3 separate regions of the Homo sapiens genome follow, and regions 2 and 3 are each reported to be linked to region 1. The links are microRNA targets in miRTarBase. Many come from high-throughput screens and were not tested one by one. Region 1 holds a microRNA gene; each other region holds the end of a gene's coding sequence.

Region 1 (7,201 bases):
GGAGACTAGGTAAGTAGATTCTCACTGGATTCTGAGACCTGCAGTCCTCTCCGTCTTCCTTAGCTCAGAATGCTGTCAACCTAGCCAGGCAATTATCCTCCAGGCAAGAGACTAAAAAAAGTCCTGTGGGGATCTGACCAGCCCAAGAAGATCTTACAGATACTGATTATGAGTTTCCCGTGAAACAGTTCGGCCAGCTCAGCCCAGGGTGAAGTTCACTGTTAACGACCCACATACTCAGTTTCCTCTTGCTCTTATGAGCACGTGATCATGGATTCGAGCCACGTGAGGAAAATTCTAAGTGAAAGATCCAGACCAAGACAAACCAATGTAAAAAACAATGTGGACAAAACAGAGCAGCTCTTTTAAAAACTTACCAGTACTAGCTCAAGAGACACGAAGAGATATTTCACCCTTGGAACAGCAATAGAATGACACAAAAATGAGACTTTTGAAGAACGAGGAGCTTTAAACATTTAGAACCATTCTAGAAAATGTTTAAAGCTTACTTAATAAATTGAAAGATAAAATTGAAGAACTCTCCCAAAAAGTAGAGCAAAAAAAAAAAAAAAAAAAGAACAAATTAAAAAATTAGAAGACTAGTCCAGGAGGTCCAATATCTAAATAATAGGAGATTCAGAAAAAGAGAACAGAAAAAAATGGAAAGGAAAAAATCATTCGTTAATATTTTGGTAAGTAATTTGAACAGTTTCCCAGACAAGAATGATGTAAGCTTTTAGACTGACGCATGGTAGATAAAAACAGACATAAATCAAGGCATGTCACTGGGAAACTTTAGAACTGCTGGGATAAAGAAAGGATCTGAGAAGATTAAAGGATACAAAGGATCAAATCAGAATGTCATCAGGCTTCTCAACAGTAATGGCAGAGGCTAGAAGACAAGACAGCAAGGCCTTCAAACATTTGAAGAAAAATAACTACTATCTTAGAATTCTTTTTTTTTGTTGTTTGTTTGTTTGTTGAGACAGAGTCTCGCTCTGTTGCCCAGGCTGGAGTGCAGTGGTGAGATCTCGGCTCACTGCAAGCTCCGCCTCCTGGGTTCACGCCATTCTCTTGCCTCAGCCTCCCAAGTAGTTGGGCCACAGGCGCCTGCCACCACGCCCGGCTAATTTTTTGTATTTTTAGTAGAGACGGGGTTTCACCGAGTTAGCCAGGATGGTCTCGATCTCCTGACCTCGTGATCTGCCCACCTCGGCCTCCCAAAGTGCTGGGATTACAGGTGTGAGCCACCCCACCCAGCCAGAATTCTATACATAGTCAAAATATCAATTAAGGGCTGGGTGTGTTAGCTTACACCTGTAATCCTAGCACTTTGGGAGGCCAATGTGGGCGGATCACCTGACGTCAGGAGTTCGAGACCAGCCTGACCAACATGGTGAAACCCTGTCTCTACTAAAAATACAAACAAATTAGCCGGGCTTGGTGGCGGGCGCCTGTAGTACCAGCTACTTGGGAGGCTGAGGCACAAGAATCACTTGAACCTGGGCGGCGGAGGTTGTAGTAAGCCAAGATCACGCCATTGCACTCCAGCCTGGGCGACACGGCGAGACTCTATCTCAAAAAAAAAAAAAAAAAAAATCAATTGAGTATGAGGATTGAATAAAGACATCTTAGAAAGGCAATGTTCCAGATATTGTATTTCCTATGCACCTTTATTCCTTCATAGTAGGAAGTTGCTAAAAGATATGCTTCACCAAGATAAAGGAGTAAATCAGGAAAGAAGACGTACAGGAAACAGGAGATCCAACATGAGAGAAGTGAAGGGAATTCCCAGGAAGATGGAGAAGTCCCAGGTTGACAGTTTGGCCCCAGTTGTTGAGAACGGTCTAGACTAGGGGTCCCCAACTCCTGGGCTGTGGACTGGTACTGGTCGGTGGCCTGTTAGGAACCGGGCCACACAGCAGGAGATAGATGACAGGTGAGTGAGCATTACTGCCCGAGCTCAGCCTCCTGTCGAATCACTGGTGGCATTAGATTCTCACAGGGGCATGAACCCTACTCTGAACTGCACATGCGAGTGGTCTAGGTTGCATGCTCCTATGAGAATCTAATGCCTGATGATCTAGGGTGGACCAGTTTCATTCCAAAACCATCCCCCATTGTCTGTGGAAAAATTGTCTTCCATGAAACCGGTCCCTGGTGCCAAAAAGGTTGGGGACTGCCGATCTAGACTGAAGTATGTTGGAGAATCTGGGAGAGATTTTGTGAAGATTGGATTGATAAGATATGTGATGCTCTGACTGTCTTAAGAGGATGTTTGTATAATTAAGTGAGTTTGTGTTTGAATTAGTGATAAGCATCAATAATAATAATAAAATTTTAATCCAGGGAAGCAAAGAGTGGCTAGGATAGGAAAAGTCATTATAGTTTGATGCATGGCTTAGTTTAGTATTTTCATGGTTGTAATCATATAAATGCTCAACAAAGAGCTAACAAAAATTATGATATAACCAGATTAGAAAGATAAGCAGATGAGAAGGGTGTGTGTGTTTTTCCTGAGAATAAGAGAAGGAAGGACAGCCAAATTCTTCATTTGCAAAGGGATAAGCCAATAGATGAATGCATAAAGCTGAAAAATCAAGGAAAGCAATATAAGCATTTTATTTAGAGATGTAGAGGTTACTGACAATAGCATTAGCTAAGATAATTGAAAGTGGTGTTTCTGGAGAAGAGGCAAGGAGCAACTACTATTTGTGTTAATGAACATTGTAGAATTGTTTGGCTCTATAAAATTCATGCTTGTATTACTTTAATAAAAGTTAAAGTAAAAATATAAATAAACAGCAAAAAGCTTGCATAGCACGCCACTCTAAACTAATAAATGAAACTAAGTGATGAACATTTTATAGCATCTGATTTCAATCAGCATCATTTGAAGCGCTTTGAGTGCAGAGTCAGCTCAGCATCTATCCCGGAAGAAAAGCTCGGCCCTGGTGCTGACAGACACAGAGAGGAAATGGAAAGCAGCACCCCGCGGAGTGGCAGAGGGCATGGCTGGATAGGAGCATCTGTCTGCGTTCATCATTAGACGCCAGATGTAACCTGGAGTTTCAGCATTAAATGTTTATATGAAATGATGCCGAGGTGGAAATTTTGCCTTATAAAGTAGCTTATCTTGGGAACAGAGAGTACTATAAAAAGATGAATAAACGATTAAATCAAGGTCCAGACATGAGCTGATTTTTCTTAAAAGCAGTATCTTTACAACTTCAGAGTTTGAACTCTCTGATGTGGAACCAAGCCAAAAATAGCACAAAGAAAATATTGACCATGAGAGTGGTGACCTGGCAAGCTCAACACTGTCCACCTGTTAATCACTTGTCCCTGTTGATTTCAGCTTATGACTGCATACTTTCTAGCCTAATCCTACTGTTGGTATACTCAGGTGCAATAGAAGTTAAAGAGTGAATAAATCAACCTACTAAAAGAGATTCATGGGCACGGGGTGGGTGGAGAACAAACATATTACATTCCAAAATTCCTATGGCTCAAAGGATCAACTACTAAACAAAGCATGTACACCTGAGCCACTGTGGGAGCCAGCATGAAACACTTCCAAGGAATGAATTCAAGGAATGCAATTAATTCCCAAGCTCTTTTTCCCCAAAACTCTATTTTTGTTTCAAGCTAGCATTCCCATACTCTGTTCAGACTTTAATTCCATACTGTAATCTGTCCAGCTTTGGTAACCACCCAGCTGTAATTTGAACTGGCTGGTCAACAAACCAAACACCATCAAAGATTCTCATTTGTCTTGCTAAAGTCAAAAACACTGAAGATATTTAAATGTAAATATAATCTTTTACTGATCACACAATCTCAGGGAACTTTTCCCCCTTTGCATAGTGTCACAATTGGGGTTCAAATTGTGAAGACCAAATGTGTAACTTATACAAAAGTAATCACAATAGTTTGTTGCAATAGAAATGAGCTGTTCTGTGCATTGCTGACAAGCCACTTTTTAAAGTTTACTTTTAAATGTATGTATAGTAAAATTCACTCTTTTTGGTGCACAGTTCTTCAAGTTTTAACACATACATAGATTCAAGTAATTACCACCACAGAGAGGATACAGGACAGCTCTATCATCCTATACACCCTCGTGCTGCCCCACCTGGAATCCCTGGGAACCACTGATCCATCCTCTGTCCCTAGTCCGACCTTTTCCAGAGTGTCATATAAATGAAGTAATTTGGGATGTAGCCTCTTGTGCCTAGCTTCTTTCACTTAGCATAATATATTTGAGATTCACCCATATTATCGTATCATATTGATACAGCTCTGATGAATGGAGGAATACCAGGTTCTTCCTCTCGAGTTGAATTGGAAAAAACGACACGGACACACCTGGTGTGATTTTAAGGAGCAGAGAGTTTAATAGGCAAGAAAGATGGGAGAAGTCAGAAGGAAGAAGCTCCTCCATACAGAGACAGAGGGAGGGGGGCTCCAAAGCTGAAAGAGGAGACCCCACATGCCAGGATACCAGCCAGCTATATGAAGAGGCTGGAGGAGATGGTGTTTGATTTGCACAGGGCTCAGGGGATTGGTTTGACCAGGTAAGTCATTCATGTAGCCCTCGAAAAAAACTGACCCTCCCACCCTAGTCTTTTAATATGCAAATGCAGGGTGCCATGATGTTCTACATACTTGGGGATATGTGGGGGCAGCCATGTTGCCAGGAACGTGTGGGGCAAGGGCAAGAGGACAATGATGGGAATCGCCATGTTGGGTGGATCCAGTTTCTAATGGCTGGCGTTTGCATACTAAAGGTTGCCAGCTCAGCTCTAAGAGCCGGAGCTTTTCTGCTAGACAAGAAACGTTTTTGGAGGTGCTTTAAAAGAAATGAAAACTTCCCAAGGACCCCTTCTCCTCTCTATCTGCCTAAAATAATTTCTTAGTAACTCCTACAACAATATGTTTATGAATGCATGTGTGTATATACATGCATGTTTGTGTGTGCTTATATGTATATGTAACATATACATGATATATAACTTTATTATCATATATATAAGCTTTTAATTTTGAGGTAATTATAGAGTCAGAGGAAGCTGCAAAGACAATACCAAGTGGTCCCTTGTACCCTTCAGCCAGTTTCCTCCAATGGCTACATCTTATACAATTACAGCATGCCATCAGGAGCAGGACATTGATGCTGACATTGTAGGAGTGGAGGGAAAACTGCCGCTTTGCCCTCTGAATGTTTGCTGAAAATCAACTGACAGAAGGCAGATTAATAGGAGAAAAGGGATTATGGTGGCTCACACTTGTAATCCCAGCACTTTGGGAAGCTGAGGCGGGTGGATCGCTTGAGCCCAGGAGTTTGAGACCAGCCTGGCCAACTATGGTGGAATCCCGTCTCTACGAAAAATACAAAAATTAGCCAGGCGTGGTGGCGCGTATCTGTAATCCCAGCTACTGGAGAGGCTGAGGCAGGAGAATTGCTTGAGCCTGGGAGGCGGAGGTTGCAGTGAGCCAAGACGGGACCACTGCACTCCAGCCTGAGCAACAGAGTGGGACTCCGTCTCAAAAAAAAAAAAAAAAAGGAGGAAAGGCATGCACATTTATTTAATCAGAGTTTTATGTGACATAAGAGCTCAAAGATACAGGGGAAACCATCCATTTTTATGCTTAGGTATGGGCAGCCGTGTAGAGATACTATTGGACAAAAAGGGTAACATCTAATGCTGAGAGACTGAGTAGGGAAACCCGGCGAGGCCTGTCTGTCCGGATTCTTCTTGGCCTCTCTGGGCAGCATTCTTTCTTTCTGGGTGTGGGGCAGGGCCCTCTCTGGAATGGGGTTCTCATGACCTAAAGTCAAACAAGGTGGGTCAGATAATTTCCTTATGTCCAGTTTTTACACAGAAAGGCCACTTGGGTAGGAGGGATTCTAGTTTCCATGACTAGCTTCAGGGGAGAATCAGGGGCCAGTGACAGGAAGACCGGAGAAGGTGAGAGAGAGCTGCTTCTGAGGTCTCCCTTTGGGGTGCCGTTTTCTGAGCCCCAACAATATCATGTTTGCCATTTTATCACATGTGCACGTTCCCATAACCCCACCTCAACCAGTATCAGAACCGCCTCCACCACCACTGACATCTACCCCGTGCGTCGCCTCTGTAGTCTCTCTACTCCTTCCTTCCCCGCCACTTATAGTCCCTGGAAATCACTAATCTGTTCTCCAATTCAAAAATGTTACCTAAGTGGAATCACACAATATGCAACCTTTGAGATTTGTTGATTTCACTTAGTGTAACACCCTTGAGAAGTTGCTGTATGTATTCCTAGTTCATCCCTCTTTATTACTGGGTATATCTCATTGTATGTATTTTCCAGTTCGATTTCACATTCACCTGTTAATGGACAGTTGGATTGCTTCCAGTGTTTGGCAATTATGAATAAAGCTGCTATAAATATTTGCATACAGATTTTTATGGAAACATACATTTTCATTTCTCTTGGGTGATACCTAGGAGAGGAATGGCTGAGTCATATGAAAAGTGAATGTTTATCTTTAAAAGAAACCACTAAGCTGTTTTCCAAACTGGTTGCACTATTTGCACTCCCCAGCAATGTGTGAGGGTTTTACTTAGCTGCTTCCCATCTGTACCAGCACTTGGTAATGTCAGGGGTTTTGTTTTTGTTTTTAGACATTCCGCTAGGTGTAAAGAGGTATCTCCTTGTTTTAATTTGCATTTATCAGGATAAATTTGAAATAAGAAAAAAGAAACCTCACTTTGAAGGGATATTACCTTGATTTCCCTACTTCATGTTTGTATTATTACTTAGCAGAGAATCTAATAAAGATTCTGAGGAGTTGCCTCTCCCCGCAACCGCCCCCACCCCAGCCTCAGAAACCTGAAAATGGAAGTCATCAAGACAGTTGTCTGCTGTTTTCAACAACGGATAATCACTGCTGTCAACTAGTTTGTAGGCTGAGTGAGAAAAAAAAAAAAAAGCTGATCTAGTTCATTATAATTTACTTTAAATAAAAAAGCAATTTTTCTTCTAACTTCACACAAAATGTGTATTCTAGAGGCACTGTGTGAATATAATTTATATTCCTTGAATTTCATTCCAAGAGCACTGGAAATGCTTGATGTTTTGAGGACTTTACAGAGGAATTCATCTGTTATAAAAGGAAACTGCCAGGTGTGATGGCATGCACCTGTGTTCCCAGCTA
Region 2 (7,201 bases), not on the chromosome of region 1:
GACTGTGAAATCCAAATGTCTTGGTGTTTATGTTTGTATCTAATGTAATGCAAAGCAAGAACCAAAAGGAGGAACATGGTTGCTGTTGGAGCATCATCTGATAAGATGGTAAGACCGGCTGAAAAATGAATTAGAATTGAAGCAGAAAGTACAGTGTCCAGTATAAGATATAGAGGCCTTCTTTACTGTGCACACAAAAAGAATAACTTGGATGTCATTAAGAAAGAAAAAGCTAATGAATGCAGAAATCCATTCCATTAACCCATCTGGGGACACCGACCTATTCTTGGGATCTAGAACCCAGATTTGAGCCCTGGCTCACTTTATTCCAAATTATAAGCATATGACTATGGGTAAGTCACCAACTTCTTTAAATGCTGAGAAGCTTTTTTGTCAACCATGTTGAGCTAGTATTCTACCTTATAATGTTGATAAAAGAATTGACAAAGACAATACAGATAAATAAATCTACTTACATATTTTTAATATTTTGGGTTTGTTATGAATATTAAGACTAATCCAACTCTGAGAAATCAGGACCCACTTGGATGCTTGTCATTATATTTTCATTTAAATGACACTTTATCTTCAAGGTGAGTGTTGATCCCAGAAGAATCTGGGAATTTTTGTTTTCTGATTCAGACAGTAGAGAGTAAGTCACTTGACCATTCCACATAAATGGCAGTATTCACCTTAGCATTAGCCATTATCCTTCAAATGGGTTGCCTCCTCAAAGTGGCCCTTTTGCAGAAGGATTGCATCAACATTTATATTTTTTTCCCTAAAGTACTTTGTTACGCAGGTGAGCTTGGGTGATGTAAGTTACAATTAACTCCTTCATCTCCTATCCTGGTTGCTGCCATTCTTCTCTATTTTTGGCCAGGGTGTGGATATTGGTGGAGGAGACTAGACTTCTCTTAGCCCGTGTGAGAGGTAGACATTGAGATCCTTCTGAAATGCATCCAGCCATTCTTGCTTTCTTCACTGTCAAGATAACTTTCAGCACATTATTATTCCATTTAAGCGAGGATACCATATTCCTAAAGGGTGTTTCAGAACCCACACACTGGAAGCAATAAGAAACCCTGCTGCAAAATCATCCTCATCTGTGACTTTCTTCTTTCCCCTTCCTTTGTCCTTAGGGAAGTGTGAAATCGGCTGGGCCTACTACTGCACGGGAGCAGGTGCCACTGCCGCCATGCTGCTGTGCACGTGGCTGGCTTGCTTTTCGGGCAAGAAACAGAAGCACTACCCATACTGAGATGGAGCTACCAAGAGCAGACAGAGGAGAAGATGGGCCAAAGGGGCTTGGAGAGGTCAAAACATCCACCTACCTTCAAAAGGTGGGATAGTAGTTCTAATCCAATACAATGCTAATAAAATGAAACCCGATAAAATCAGGAACATGATATAGGAAGGAAGGATTGTAGGAGATTTGTGGGGGAAAAAAAAGGAGAGTATAGAATGATGGAGAAAAATGGACCAAAGGCTAAAAATATTGCAGGGCATCGGGTGTTTCTATTCCACAGAGTATTGTTAATGTACAACACACACACACACACACACACACACACACACACACACACACACACAACAAATCTACATATACAAACAAGGGTTTGGGTTTTAGTTTTTTTTTTTTAAGGTGAGGACTCAGAAAATCAAAGGGCTAGTAGAAACAGTGTTATGTTGGGAAGCAGGGTACCCCCAAAGATGTTCCCTGTAGGTCACGGCACTCCCAAAAGCACACAAGCACATACAGACATATGCATCCCCACACACGCCTATGCACAAACGTGGATTATCGCACAGACTGGGAGGTTTAGTGGTGCATTTCTCCTCTGTTTTCTTTTTAATATACATTTAAAATACAGTATTATCACTTTATAAAACATACATTAAGCCTAATAAATGGACCAATAAGCCAAACTATCAGTATTTTGTATATCCTGCATAAACTCTAATTTAGTTCCTCAACATATTTTCAGTGTTTATGCAGACCTTTAGAGTTAAGCCTTTGTATTTCCATGTTATTCCACAATATGCAATATTTCTCTGAGTAGCTTCTGCTATGATATTCTTATGAAGAAAAGGGGCAACTTTCTGTCCACTATAGGAGAGAATTCAGCCGAAGATATGAGAGTAATGAGAGACATTTTCCAGTCATTGGATCGTGTTTTCTTTTGTCCATTATTGTACTGTGCTGTACCACATTTATTTCTATATTCATTTTGTAAAAAATTTAAAAGTGCTATTTTGTTTGTATTTGAAAATCTCTGTGAATAAATTCTCTCTTTGATCAATAGCTAGATGAGTCATGGAGTGTTAATTCAGTCATCGGATTTGCTTCTTTAATTTCTCCAATGTAGCTCTTCAACTACTATAGTCCTGTAAAATTTCCTTTTCTCTTTTAAGGCCTCTCATTAATTCACTCACTAATCAACCAGGCATTGTTCTAGGCACAAGTGTATTAAAGATGAGTAAGACAGTTTCTGCTTTCAACGTGAATTCTTTGCAACCAGAATTCTAACTTCCTGCTTGTTACATTTCAATCATAACCAAATTCTGAGGACAGAAGAACTTCAGGTCTGTTTTGTATTAAGTTTGAGAATATGGGTGGTATTCAGATGTGATTTAGGGCAACAAGAGCTAGACTGTGGTTCAGGAGGTGACTGGACTGACAGTCACCAGCATGGTGACACGACTGTTACAGTTGCCAGTGACTTGCTGTTCCTCCAGCTTCTACAAAGTGCTGGGTTTCTTCTGTACTTCTGTGTCAGGGAAAATTTTATATCACTGCCCTTCAGGGATGTTGGCCATTTGAAAAAGCTTATCTCAACAGCCCTGCCCCTCCAGCAGAAAGTCTTCACCAAAGAGAAAGGTTTGGACCCTCACATGGCCCCTTAACAGAACTAGCTCTTTCAGGGCTAGGTGTGATGGCTCACACCTGTAATCCCAGCCGAGGTGGGGAAATCACATGAGGCCAGGAGTTCGAGACCAGCCTGGCCAACATGGCAAGACTCCATCTCTACTAAAAATACCAAAAAAAAAAAAAAATTATTAGCTGGGCATAGTCATGCACTCCTGTAATCCCAACTACTCAGGTTGAGGCACAAGAATCGCTTGAACCCAGGAGGTGGAGGCTGCAGTAAGCCGAGATTGCAACACTGCACTCCAGCCTAGGCAACAGAGCGAGACCCTGTCCCCACCAAAAAAATAAATAAATAATAACAAATAACAAAAACTAGCTCCTTCAGGAGCAAAGATTGCATTCTGAATATTGGATCTAGCCTTTTGTTTAGTAAGCCTGAGATATTGTAGCAAATCCTTAAGAATTCAGTTTCAGTTAGCTTCTACATTCATTGTACTTTTCAGATTTGGCAATTGAACATGCTGGCTATTTATTCATGTAAGTACATTTTCTATGCTATCTATACACATTTATCAATTTAGTTTGAATATCTGACTATTCCACTTGCTTCTGGTACTTTTAATCATTCCAGGATGAGAAGCCATGCTGCTCTGGAAGAACAATACAGGATCTGACCAATAAAATTCTACACTCTGAGGCTTTGTTGGTGTGGAGAAAGTCATTCCACTCTCAGATGCTTAATTCATATTGTGCTGAATGTGATTTGATTGTGTCTCATTGTCTGCTGAGCAGGGGCTTCTCCACTCTGTGGTTTCCGGCAGAGAAGAAAAGATTGCACTTTGCTTCCTCAATTAGCCCATTATTTTCATGTATAGCTGGTGCTTTTCAAATTTCTTTTAACTGCACCTTCCTGTAGAGTAGTGTTGTGACTTCTTAGCTCCCATTATCAAGTTGGAGTTCTCTAGGGAATTCATTAAGATCTAGTTCCTTGGACAGATTTAATGATGACATTGTCATTTTTATGTAGTTCATGTGATTTTAGACATTAGTGAGCCTCACTGGAATAAAAGATCAGCCACTCTACTGGTAAAGTCAAATGACAAACTCTTATATGGCAATGGCAAATTCTGGCTAGTCATATCATTTTTTTTTTTTTTTTTTTTGCTCAAGATGTCCCAGCATTTTAATAGGAACATCTAAGTTATTAAGAATTACATATACTGCTTTTGAAATGAAAATCACAATTCATAAGCTAATAACAATAACAAAGTCAGTGAAAAGTATATATTCACAGCATTCTTACTGATATACACATGAGAGACAATAAAAAGCTCAATTTTCACAACCTTAAAAGCTTTCATTGCTTGCACATGCCTGTGCAGTAAATGGGGAGTTTACCTTGTTTTTAGGAAGAGAAAATGACATGCAAAGAAGTGAATTGATGAAATTTAATTGACTCTAGTCATTGAACACCTGCTACTTGGTAGGTATTCTACTAGACATAAAACGCTAAATAAAATACAGCCCATGCTCTCAAGTCAGTCATAAGCTCATGGAAAAAAATAACAGGAGCATCAGTGATTACCAAATCATATGTCAACTAATTCTCAAAGACAGGGAGGAAGTTCCTCCCAAGTAAAGAATTCTGCACAGACAAATTAAAAAGGTATAAAGAAAGATGAAAGATGATATATTACAATGTTCTGCTCTTCAAAAATCATCATTAAGAAAATAAAAAGATGTGTCAACGACTGGAAAAAGTTATATATCTGGTAAAGAACTTGTATTCTGAGTACATACATGACTCTCTCAAATGAATAATAAAAAGGACAATCCATTTTTAAAGGGTAAAAACATGAATGGGGTATTTCCCAAAAGACAATATACCAGTGGCCAATTACACTGAAAAGGTGTTCAACATCATTAGTTGAGAAGAAAATGAAACTTCCAGAACCACAATGAAATGTTGCTTAACATACACTAGAACAACTAAAACAAAATATTGACAACACCAAATGTTGCTGAGTATGTGGACACATGGCTGGAAAAGCAATAGGTACATTTTTATTAAGTGAACCATAGTAATTCCCTTCCTAGGTATTTGTGCCAAAAAAACAAAACAAAACTATGTTCACAAAAAGATTACATAAGAATGTTCATTTCAATTTTGTTCATAATAACCCTAAACTGGGAGCAACTCAAATGTTCACCAGCACATACATAAATTGTGGTGTATTTAGATAGTGGAATACTACTCAGCAATAAAAGGAATGAACACATGGTATACACATCAACTTGGATGAATCCCACAGACATTCTGTTGAGCAAAAGAAGCACAGAGGAAAATTGATACATGGTCATGGAAATTAGAATAATGGTTACCCTCTTATGTGGGTGGGAGAATTGACTGGTGAGGACGAAACAGGACTTTCTGGGATGAAGGAAATGTTCTACATATTGATTGGAGTGGTGTCCACATGGATGTATACACTTGCCAAAAATCCACTGATAACATGCATTTAAAGACTGCACTTTATCGTGTTCTAATGGCGCCTTAATCAAAGAGAAAAGCATGGAGGGCCTTAAAGGTTAATGGAACTGTGGGTCATCTCACATGGCAGCAGTTGGGGTGCATTTGGGCAGGTGGAAGATGAGGTGGGAGAAGGGCAGGCAGTGCTTTGGGTACCATGCTAAAAGGACCAAAATTTAAAATGGATATTGGAGGCAGTGGGAGGATCTGACATAGGGGAAGATGTGGCATGAACAACTTATGTTTCTTAACTAGATCCCTGGAGGAAGTATTGTGAGACACTGGGTGGCAGAAGTGGGGAGAGAGATTGTTACAGTGTAATCATTCCACCAACAGAAAGCGGAGCATCTACTATGGTCTAAGTGATTGGGAAAAGGAAGTGAACAAATAGGGGGATGTCAAGGTGTGAAATGATAGGGCCAAACTGGGCCAAATTAATAGAGATGGAGAGGCTGGGAAACTATTAGAGAGAACAGGATAAACTCAGTAGGTCCTTGGAATAGAGACAGAGGGAAGGAAGAGAGTTGGGTGGATGAGGGTGCCACAGATAGAGATAAGACATGAAAAGAACATATTCTACAGTGCATACATACATCAAAACATCACATTGTACACAGTAAATATATACAATTATTGTCAATTAAAAAATAACAAAAATAAAGGAATAGACCATCAACCTAAATAAAATTCTATACCCAAGAAAAATCCTTCAAAAACAAAAACAAACTTCAAATAAAAATAAAGGCCTTTTAAGACGCACACAAAAATTGGTGTAATTAAGGACTTGGTATGTGTAAATTACCTGTGAGATATCCAGACACAGATGCTTAGCAGGTAGTTGAAAATTAAGGGCTGAGGCTCAGGAGAAATTTTAGGTATATAATTATGCATTGCTTAATGATGGAGATGTATTCCAAGAAATGCGTTGTTAGGCAATTTTGTCATTGTGGGAACATCATAGAGTGTACTAACACAAACCTAGATAGTGCAGCCTTCTCCACACCTAGGCTGTATGGTATGACCTGTTGCTCCTAGGCTTTAAACCTGTACAGCGTGTTACTGTACTGAATACTGTAGGTGACTGTAACACAATAACAAGTATCTGCGCATCTAAACATATCTAAAATAGAAAGGAACAGTGAAAAAATGGTATAAAAAATTAAAAATGGGCCAGGCGCAGTGGCTCACACCTGTAATCCCAGCACTTTGGGAGGCCGAGGCGGGCGGATCACGAGGTCAGGAGATCGAGACCATCCTGGCCAACATGGTGAAACCCCATCTCTACTAAAAATACAAAAATTAGCAGGCCATGGTGGCACGTGCCTGAAGTCCCAGCCACTCGGGAGGCTGAGGCAGGAGAATCGTTTGAACCTGGGAGGCGGAGGTTGCAGTGACCCAAGATCATGCCGCTGCACTCCAGCCTGGCAACAGAGCGAGACTCAGTCTCAAAAATAAAATAAAATAATAAAATAAAATAAATAAAATAAAATAAAATAAAAAATAAAATAATTAAAAATGGTGCACCCATATAGGGCACTTACTATTAATGAAGCTTACAGGACTGGAAGTTGCTCTGGGTGAATCAGTGAGTGAGTGGTAAGTGAATGTGAAGGCCTAGGATATTACCATACACTAGTGTAGACTTTATAAACACTGTACATTTAGGCTATTATAAATTAATAAAAATATTTTTATTTCTTCAACAATAAATTAACTTTAGCTTACTGTAACTTTTTTACTTTATAAACTTTTTAATTTTAAGCTTTCTGACACTTTTGAAATAACACTTAGCTTAAGCT
Region 3 (7,201 bases), not on the chromosome of region 1:
AATGCCAGATGTGGTATTTAATCCTATTACGGGCCGGGCGAGGTGGCTCATGCCTGTAATCCCAACACTTTGGGAGGCTGAGGCAGGTGGATCACCTGATGTCAGGAGTTCAAGATGAGCCTGGCCAACATCTTTAGTAGAGATGGCAAAACCCCATCTCTACTAAAAATACAAAAATTAGCTGGGTGTGGTGGCGCACACCTATAATTCCAGCTATTAGGGGAGGCTGAGGCAGGAAAATCGCTTGAACCCAGGAGGTGGAGGTTGTGGTGATCCGAGATCATGCCACTGCACTCCAGGCTGGGCAACAGAGTGAGATTCTGTCTCAAAAAAAAAAAAAAAAAAATCCTATTACAAAGCCAAGATTTCTCCATGGGTTCTTATCAGCTGGGATATGGCTTTTGGAGGAGTGTGGTAACTTCTCTTCCCTCAGAGAATCTAGGTATCCTCTCTTCCCTCAGAGAATCTAGAGAGTCATGCTTTTTGGGGCCTTGCCCAGATGTTCAGATGTGATTGGTTAAGTCCATTGACCTGGCTTTTGACATACACGAATCCCCAGAGGGAATTTTCAACAGGAGAGTTAACTCTGAGGATGTCACTTGACATACAATTGCCAGTAAATGCTGCTTGGGCCACGTTTTCATTGTTCCCTAGCCTATTTTTCTAAAATTACCATTTTTAAAGCACTGTCCCCTGGGTTATCCAACTTAGGATAGACCACCAGCACCTGGTCTCAAAGTCTCTCTTTGCTTTATTCTGCAGGAAAAACTCTGATGAGGCTGACCTGGTCCCTGCCAAGGAAGCCAATGTCAAGTGCCCACAGGTTGTCATATCCTTCTATGAGGAAAGGCTGACGTGGCATTCCTACCCCTCGGAGGATGATGACAAAAAAGATGACAAGAACTAACGCTCCTGAGTACCAGCCCCTGTCACATCTGACTGTGGGTTTCAAGTGGGAAGGGAAGGAGTTCTACTTGTCTTGACACCATAGAGGTGGCTTGAGAAGATGTCCTTTGAAGAGCCAGTATAGTTTCTGTGCCCTGCAGCAGCCCAAGTGCTTTAAAGCCGTTTCAAGCTGTATAGTTTGCACACCCATCCCAGTGGAGGGGAAAGGGGATAAGTGTTTCAAGGCAACCTTTTCTGCACTTTGCTGCGAAAAGCAAAGGGCCTTCTATGAAGGACAAAACTTGCAGAATTGGGTGTGTGGGAGAGCAAAAAAATACTGTAGATCTTCAAAGAGCATCTCCACAACCCACAGCCTTCTTCCCAATAGTGTTAACTCTGCATTTTTACAGCGTAGCATGTGTGTAGTTTTTGGCTATTACTGGTGTATTATTTGGGGGAGGGAGGGATGGGGAGGGGAGAAAGGGAGATGGGTAGCATCATTTTGATTAACATTTGGGGCCTGATAGGGGAAATGGTGAAGCAATGGAAAAGAACAGACAACTAATGATTTGCTTCTATGTCCAGAATATTTTACCTTTAAAAAAATGTCATTGGCACCATAAATAAGGACTGTGAGAGACTGTTTAAAAGCTGTGAAAGTCTGAAACCTATAAGCCAAGGTGTTCCCTGCCTAAACTTATTGCTGTTCCCACAAAGGACTAAGCCTGTTCATAAGTTACCAAAGTTGCCATTTTGGAGATGGAAATTGACGAGGAGGGAAGGTCTTTTATTGGAGAGTATACAGTACAAGCAGATCATTCTGCCTTAGAGGTGCTAATTCCCGAAATTAGAAGACCCTTTCTTTTCCAGTAACGAAGTTATAAATATCAGCTTGTTCATCCAAGCCACTGGCTGAGGTGTTAGGAAGAGGAAGAGGGTGGTAGAGGAGGTAAGACAGTAGGGAAAGACAAGGGCCCATGCTCTTAGTGGGGAAAACTCTTGGAGCCGTTTACTTTGAGCTTTGAACACTGAAACCATTGTTGGCAGGGTTCAGTCACTGACAGCACAAGTTTCACTGAATTGATCCAAGAGTTTAGTGATTTCAAAAGCCTTGGTCTCAGGAGAAGATTAAACTTTCATATTGGGCAGTGGTTCACTTTAAAACACACACATACACACACAAAACAATTTTTTAAGAAATCCTAATAAGTAACATACCCAAAATGCTCTGTCTTGAGTCATGAGAACCATCAGTTCTTGATATTGTCTAGACTTGCATCTAGAGCTACGTTGTAAAATTCTTTTAGGCATGTGTTAGATTTCTGTGTAAACTTTGTTTAAATGTAAACTTCATACTACATTGTCAGTTTTTGTCTTAATAAAACTATAGATTTATAATCCCTGATTTCTGTCTTAAGTCTTACCAGGAACCCTTCTTGCCTTATAGGTTCAGCCTGTTGGAAATGGCTTCCTCACTTGAATGGTTTTATTTCTTGAACACTGTAGGCTTGAAAATCTAGTGCCTGGCCTGAATCTTTAAGTGGTCACACCATGTTAATTTAGTAAATACTTACTGGGCATTTATCAGTTGCTGCAGAGGTTGTAAAGATGGTCGCATCATGCTGTCTTCAGTACTGCCAAAAGTTTATTGAGCACTCTGACCTGATAGCACTTCCAAACTATGGTATATTTGGAAACATGGGTTTTTAAGTTAGGTTTAGATCCTGCCTATGGTATGTAATAGATTATATGACCTTGGCTAAAATCTACTTCTCCAAAATTTTCCAGGAATTTGGCCCTGTGTTTGCGCACTGATTTAAAACGTCATTTTCTGCCTATGATTTTTTTTTTTTTTTTTTGAGATGGAGTCTTGCTGTCACCCAGGCTGGAGTACAGTGGTGTGATCTCGGCTCACTACAACCTCTGCCTCCCAGGTTCAAGCGATTCTCCTGCCTCAGCCTCCAGAGTAGCTGGGACTACAGGCGCGTGCCACCACACTTGGCTAATTTTTAAATTTTTTTAGTAGAGATGGGGTTTTGCCATGTTGGCCAGGCTGGTCTCGAACTCCTAACCTCAGGTGATCCACCTGCCTCGGCCTGCCAAAGTGCTGGGATTACAGGCATGAGCCACTGTGCCTGGCCTTGGACTTGCCTTTATTTTTTTTTATTTTTTTTTTTTTAGTCTTGCTCTGTTGCCAGGCTGGAGTGCAGTGGTGCGATCTCAGCTCACTGTAACCTCCGCCTCCTGGGTTCAGCGATTCCCCTGCCTCATCCTCCTGAGTAGCTGGGACTACAGGCGTGCACCACCACACCCGGCTAATTTTTTGTATTTTAGTGGAGACAGGGTTTCACCATGTTGGCCAAGATGGTCTTGATCTTCTGACCGCATGATCCGCCCGCCTCGGCCTTCCAAAGTGCGGGATTACAGGAATGAGCCACCACATCCGGCCAACTTGTCATTTTTGTAACAGACATAGGATTTCCACTGAGAACAAATCAGTGTAACAGTTGAGTACTACTCACTCGTGCAAAGCATTTGTTTAAAATAAACTGATGTGTAGATAATTTTTTCAGAAAGCCTCCTCAGGAAAGTTCTCAGGAGACATAAGTGGAGCTGGGGAGCCTTACTGAAGGTCTGGGTCACAGACAGGCCTTCCCGCACAGAGGTCTGAGTGTGTGCCCTGGTGGTGGTTGACAGTAGCACAGCAGTCGGTAGCTAATTAAGGGAGTTTAAGTGGAGGTGTTCTGGTTCTGTTCTGCACCATCAGATGCACTGAAATGAAACTACAGCCTTGGTTTGTATCCCAAATGGACTGCTAGTCAGCTTTGGTCTTAACCTTTGGAACTGACTGACTTGTCATTTGTGGCATTCCTGAGCTGTTGTAAAAACTGTATCATTCTCCCCCAGAGAAAACAGTAATACTGATAGGCATGCAGTGAAAACTGAGTTGAAGCTAGGTAGTCACAATTTTGTTATTTTCAAAAGCCAATTGGCATATTACTAGATCAGTAGTTTAAGGATCAACTTTTTTGATTGTTGAGGCCACAAATTCAAACTGTTATAAGTAGGCACAACAAATCTTAGGTCAGCTTGAGAAAGTATTCAGAGAATATTTCTTTGTTTTTTGTTTTTTCTTTTGAGACAGAGTCTCGCTGTCACCCAGGCTGGAGTGCAGTGGCACAATCTCAGCTCACTGCAACCTCCGCCTCCTGGGTTCAAGCGATTCTCCTGCTTCAGCCTCCCGAGTAGCTGGGACTACAGGCATGCCCCACTACACCTGGCTAATTTTTGTAGTTTTGGTAGAGATGAGGTTTCACCATGTTGGCCAGGCTGGTCTCGAACCCCTAACCTCAAGTGATCCACCTGCCTTGGCTTCCCAAAGTGCTGGGATTATAGGCGTGAACCACCACTCCCAGCCAAAGAATATTTCTTCAGGCAGTGGAAAAACATGTTTGTTGGGTGGTTTCCATGAAATTGCACCATCATAGACCTGCCCAGGAATTAAAGAGGCAATAAATTATCTTAGTTACTATTAGAAAAGGGGAGCTTGTTAATATTGTGACATCATTATTACCTGAGGTGTCCTGTACTGGTAGAGCCATTAAACAAAAATCTTGCTCCTCCATTGCCTTAAGTAAGTTTCTATTTAGTATTGTAAATGGATGGAATAATGACCACAGAAACACTCTGACAGTGCTGAGGAATAATTGTTCCTGCATTTAATATCATTTGAAAATTTTGACGACCAATTTTAAGTGATTTTTAGTAATTAAATTTTTATTTATTTTTTTGAGGAGAGAAATGGTCTCTGTCACCTAGTCTAGAGTGCAGTGGTGCTACCATGGCTCACGGCAGCCTCATCCTCCTGGGCTAAAGGGATCCTCCCACCTCAGCCTCCTGAGCTGGGACTACAGGTGTGTGCCATAATGCCCAGCTAATTCTTTTTTTCTTTTTTTTTTTTTTAACTTAGTAGAGATGGGGTCTCACTGTGTTGCCCAGGCTGGTCTCGAACTCCTGGGCTCAAGCAGTCCTCCTGTCTCTGCCTCCCAAAGTGTTAGAATTACAGGTGTAAGCCACTGCACCTTGCCTAATTAAATTTTTAAATACCTGTTTTCAGATATGACCTTATATTCCAGAACTCTCAATTCTGTGGTGGCCATAGACTTGGCTCAATTTGATGTTAAACTTGCGCCATTTGGGGTTTGTCTGTGTGCTTGGCACATCTTTATGGACTGTGGCATTGGGAATCTGCATTATAAAGCAATTATTTCTCATAGTAAAAGGGAAAATGATAGCTTGGATTAATGTGCAAGTTGGGTCTTCTGATGAAGATATGTTCTTATTTATAATTTAAAGCTGATAGAACTGAACTAAGTCCAGGCTCAGTATTAGCGTTCAACTTAATAAAGGAGTCTTGGCTTTCAGCACTAGGAAACAATGATCAGGGAGAGGCATCCTAGTGTTTTGGTGTGGGATTACAGGAGTTTGATAGAGGAGAGCTTAAGATCCCAAGACAACTTGTCAATCTGTGGATCTGCACATCACCTTGTTTTGACGATGTCCAGCACTGAGGTTTTTTCCCCAAAAGTTACTGCTTTCCTATCTAGTGTGTGAAGTTTAAAGTTACTTGTTTCTCTTATGGATGACTTAATTGACCTTGGCCTTGTAAGTTTCCTGTTGACTGTTGAATAAACTACTGAATGTTGAAAACAAATGAAATGTGAAATAAAACCATCCTGCTGGGATGAAAAGCACAGTTGGCCCTCCTTTGTGGGGGCAAGCAGAGCAGTGCCTTTTAAAGGCTTTTTGTTTTGTTTTTTTTTTCTTAGGCTAATGAAGTGGCAAAAGTGAGGGAAGGCTAAATATCAAGTTTAGAATAGGTGCTGACAATTCAGCTTCTGTAGTTTTTGGTTGTATTAAATAACCTGTTTTACAATATACCAGCAGCACAATTGGGTCTGCCTTGTGACCTTGTTGGTTTGTATGGTGGTTTGTGATAGTACCAAAGCCACTGTTTACCCCAAATGGATTTTTAAATCCTAGTTGACTTTGACCAAGCCTGCCCTTTTTGCTATTTGCATAGTTAGGGTCAGGCTGGGCAACTTTGACGCCTGGCTTTGGGACACTAGCCCATTTCAATTACTGCTTCAGCCCCTAATTGAGAATTGGAAAGTTCAAGTCAACTGTTATTACCCCAGTTACACTTGTGTTTGACACAAAAGGCAGAATGCCAACTCCTTGGTCTATTCTCCACCTCTCCCCAGGTGAACTAGATTTTTTGTTTCCTTAGTTGAAGAGCATCTAGAATTAAGTAAAAAATACTGTGCAACCTATCTCCATTCTGCAGTTTAAGTTAGGCTGGAAAAGAAGCAGCTTTAGGACTGGGCGCAGTGGCTCACACCTGTAATCCCAGCACTTTGGAGGCTGAGGCGGACAGATCGCTTGAACTCAGGAGTTCAAGACCAGACTGGACAACATGGCGAAACCCAAAATACAAAAATTAGCCGGGCATGGTGATGCACGCCTGTATGCCAGCTACCAGGAGGCTGAGGTGGGAGAATAGCTTGAGCCTAGAGGCAGTATTACAGTGAGCCAAGATCGCGCCACTGCACTCCAGCGTGGGTGACAAAGCTAGATCCTGTCTCCAAAAAAAAAACCAAAACAGCAGGCTGGGCGCGATGGCTCACGCCTGTAATCCCATCACTTTGGGAGGCCAAGGCGGGCGGATCATGAGGTCAGGAGATCAAGACCATCCTGGCTAACATGGTGAAACCCCATCTCTACTAAAAATACAAAAAAATTAGCTGGGCGCAGTGGCGGGCGCCTGTAGTCCCAGCTACTTGGCAGGCTGAGGCAGGAGAATGGCGTGAACCCAGAAGGCGGAGCTTGCAGTGAGCCAAGATTGCGCCACTACACTCCAGCCTGGGTGACAGGGCAAGACTCCGTCTCAAAAAAAAAAAAAAACAGCTTTAAGACCTTTGTTGGTATGGTGTATTCAAAAGGGAAGACAAAGACTTCTATCCAGCTAATTTTTGAAAACAGCCCTCTTCTGCAAGGTACCAGATTCTCACACTACTCCAGAGACAATACGTGTACTAAATTCTGTTTCTCGGCTAATTCAGGCAGACACGAACTGAACAGAACAAGGACTAGAACTTGTAAAGTTTCACACATAGTGGTAAGTTTCCCCATAGTCCCCAAATGGCTCATTCTCCACTCCAAAGTTCAGAGCGGGAGGCAAGGAAGATGATTGACTTCTGTGTAATACAGTAAAGGTAAAAAGAAAGGTTATTTTTGGTATATTGACAAAATGACA

Evidence for each region. The annotated mature microRNA hsa-miR-4455 reads AGGGUGUGUGUGUUUUU and lies in region 1 at 2,499-2,515, shown strand. An mRNA with a match to its seed (bases 2 to 7 or 8) in the 3' UTR can be bound and repressed. Matches are read on the target gene's strand: a 7mer-m8 pairs with bases 2 to 8, a 7mer-A1 pairs with bases 2 to 7 and ends in A, and an 8mer does both.
Region 2: miRTarBase lists LHFPL6 as a target of hsa-miR-4455. The part of its 3' UTR that is shown has no 7-base or 8-base seed match.
Region 3: miRTarBase lists CBX1 as a target of hsa-miR-4455. Seed matches in the 3' UTR shown: 8mer at 1,088-1,095.

Annotation. Positions count from the first base shown.
Region 1 is chr4:184,933,735-184,940,935 of GRCh38, reverse strand. It overlaps MIR4455 (microRNA 4455), which reads left to right and starts at 2,496; the gene lies at 2,496-2,553. RefSeq lists a silencer at 7-301.
Region 2 is chr13:39,337,996-39,345,196 of GRCh38, reverse strand. It overlaps LHFPL6 (LHFPL tetraspan subfamily member 6), which reads left to right. Exons shown (of 4, transcript NM_005780.3): 4 at 1,143-2,305. The coding sequence ends at 1,261. Among named protein-coding and RNA genes, the nearest start is that of LHFPL6, 260 kb to the left of the region's middle.
Region 3 is chr17:48,065,141-48,072,341 of GRCh38, reverse strand. CBX1 (chromobox 1) reads left to right here. Exons shown (of 5, transcript NM_001127228.2): 5 at 763-2,283. The coding sequence ends at 907. Among named protein-coding and RNA genes, the nearest start is that of NFE2L1, 20 kb to the right of the region's middle.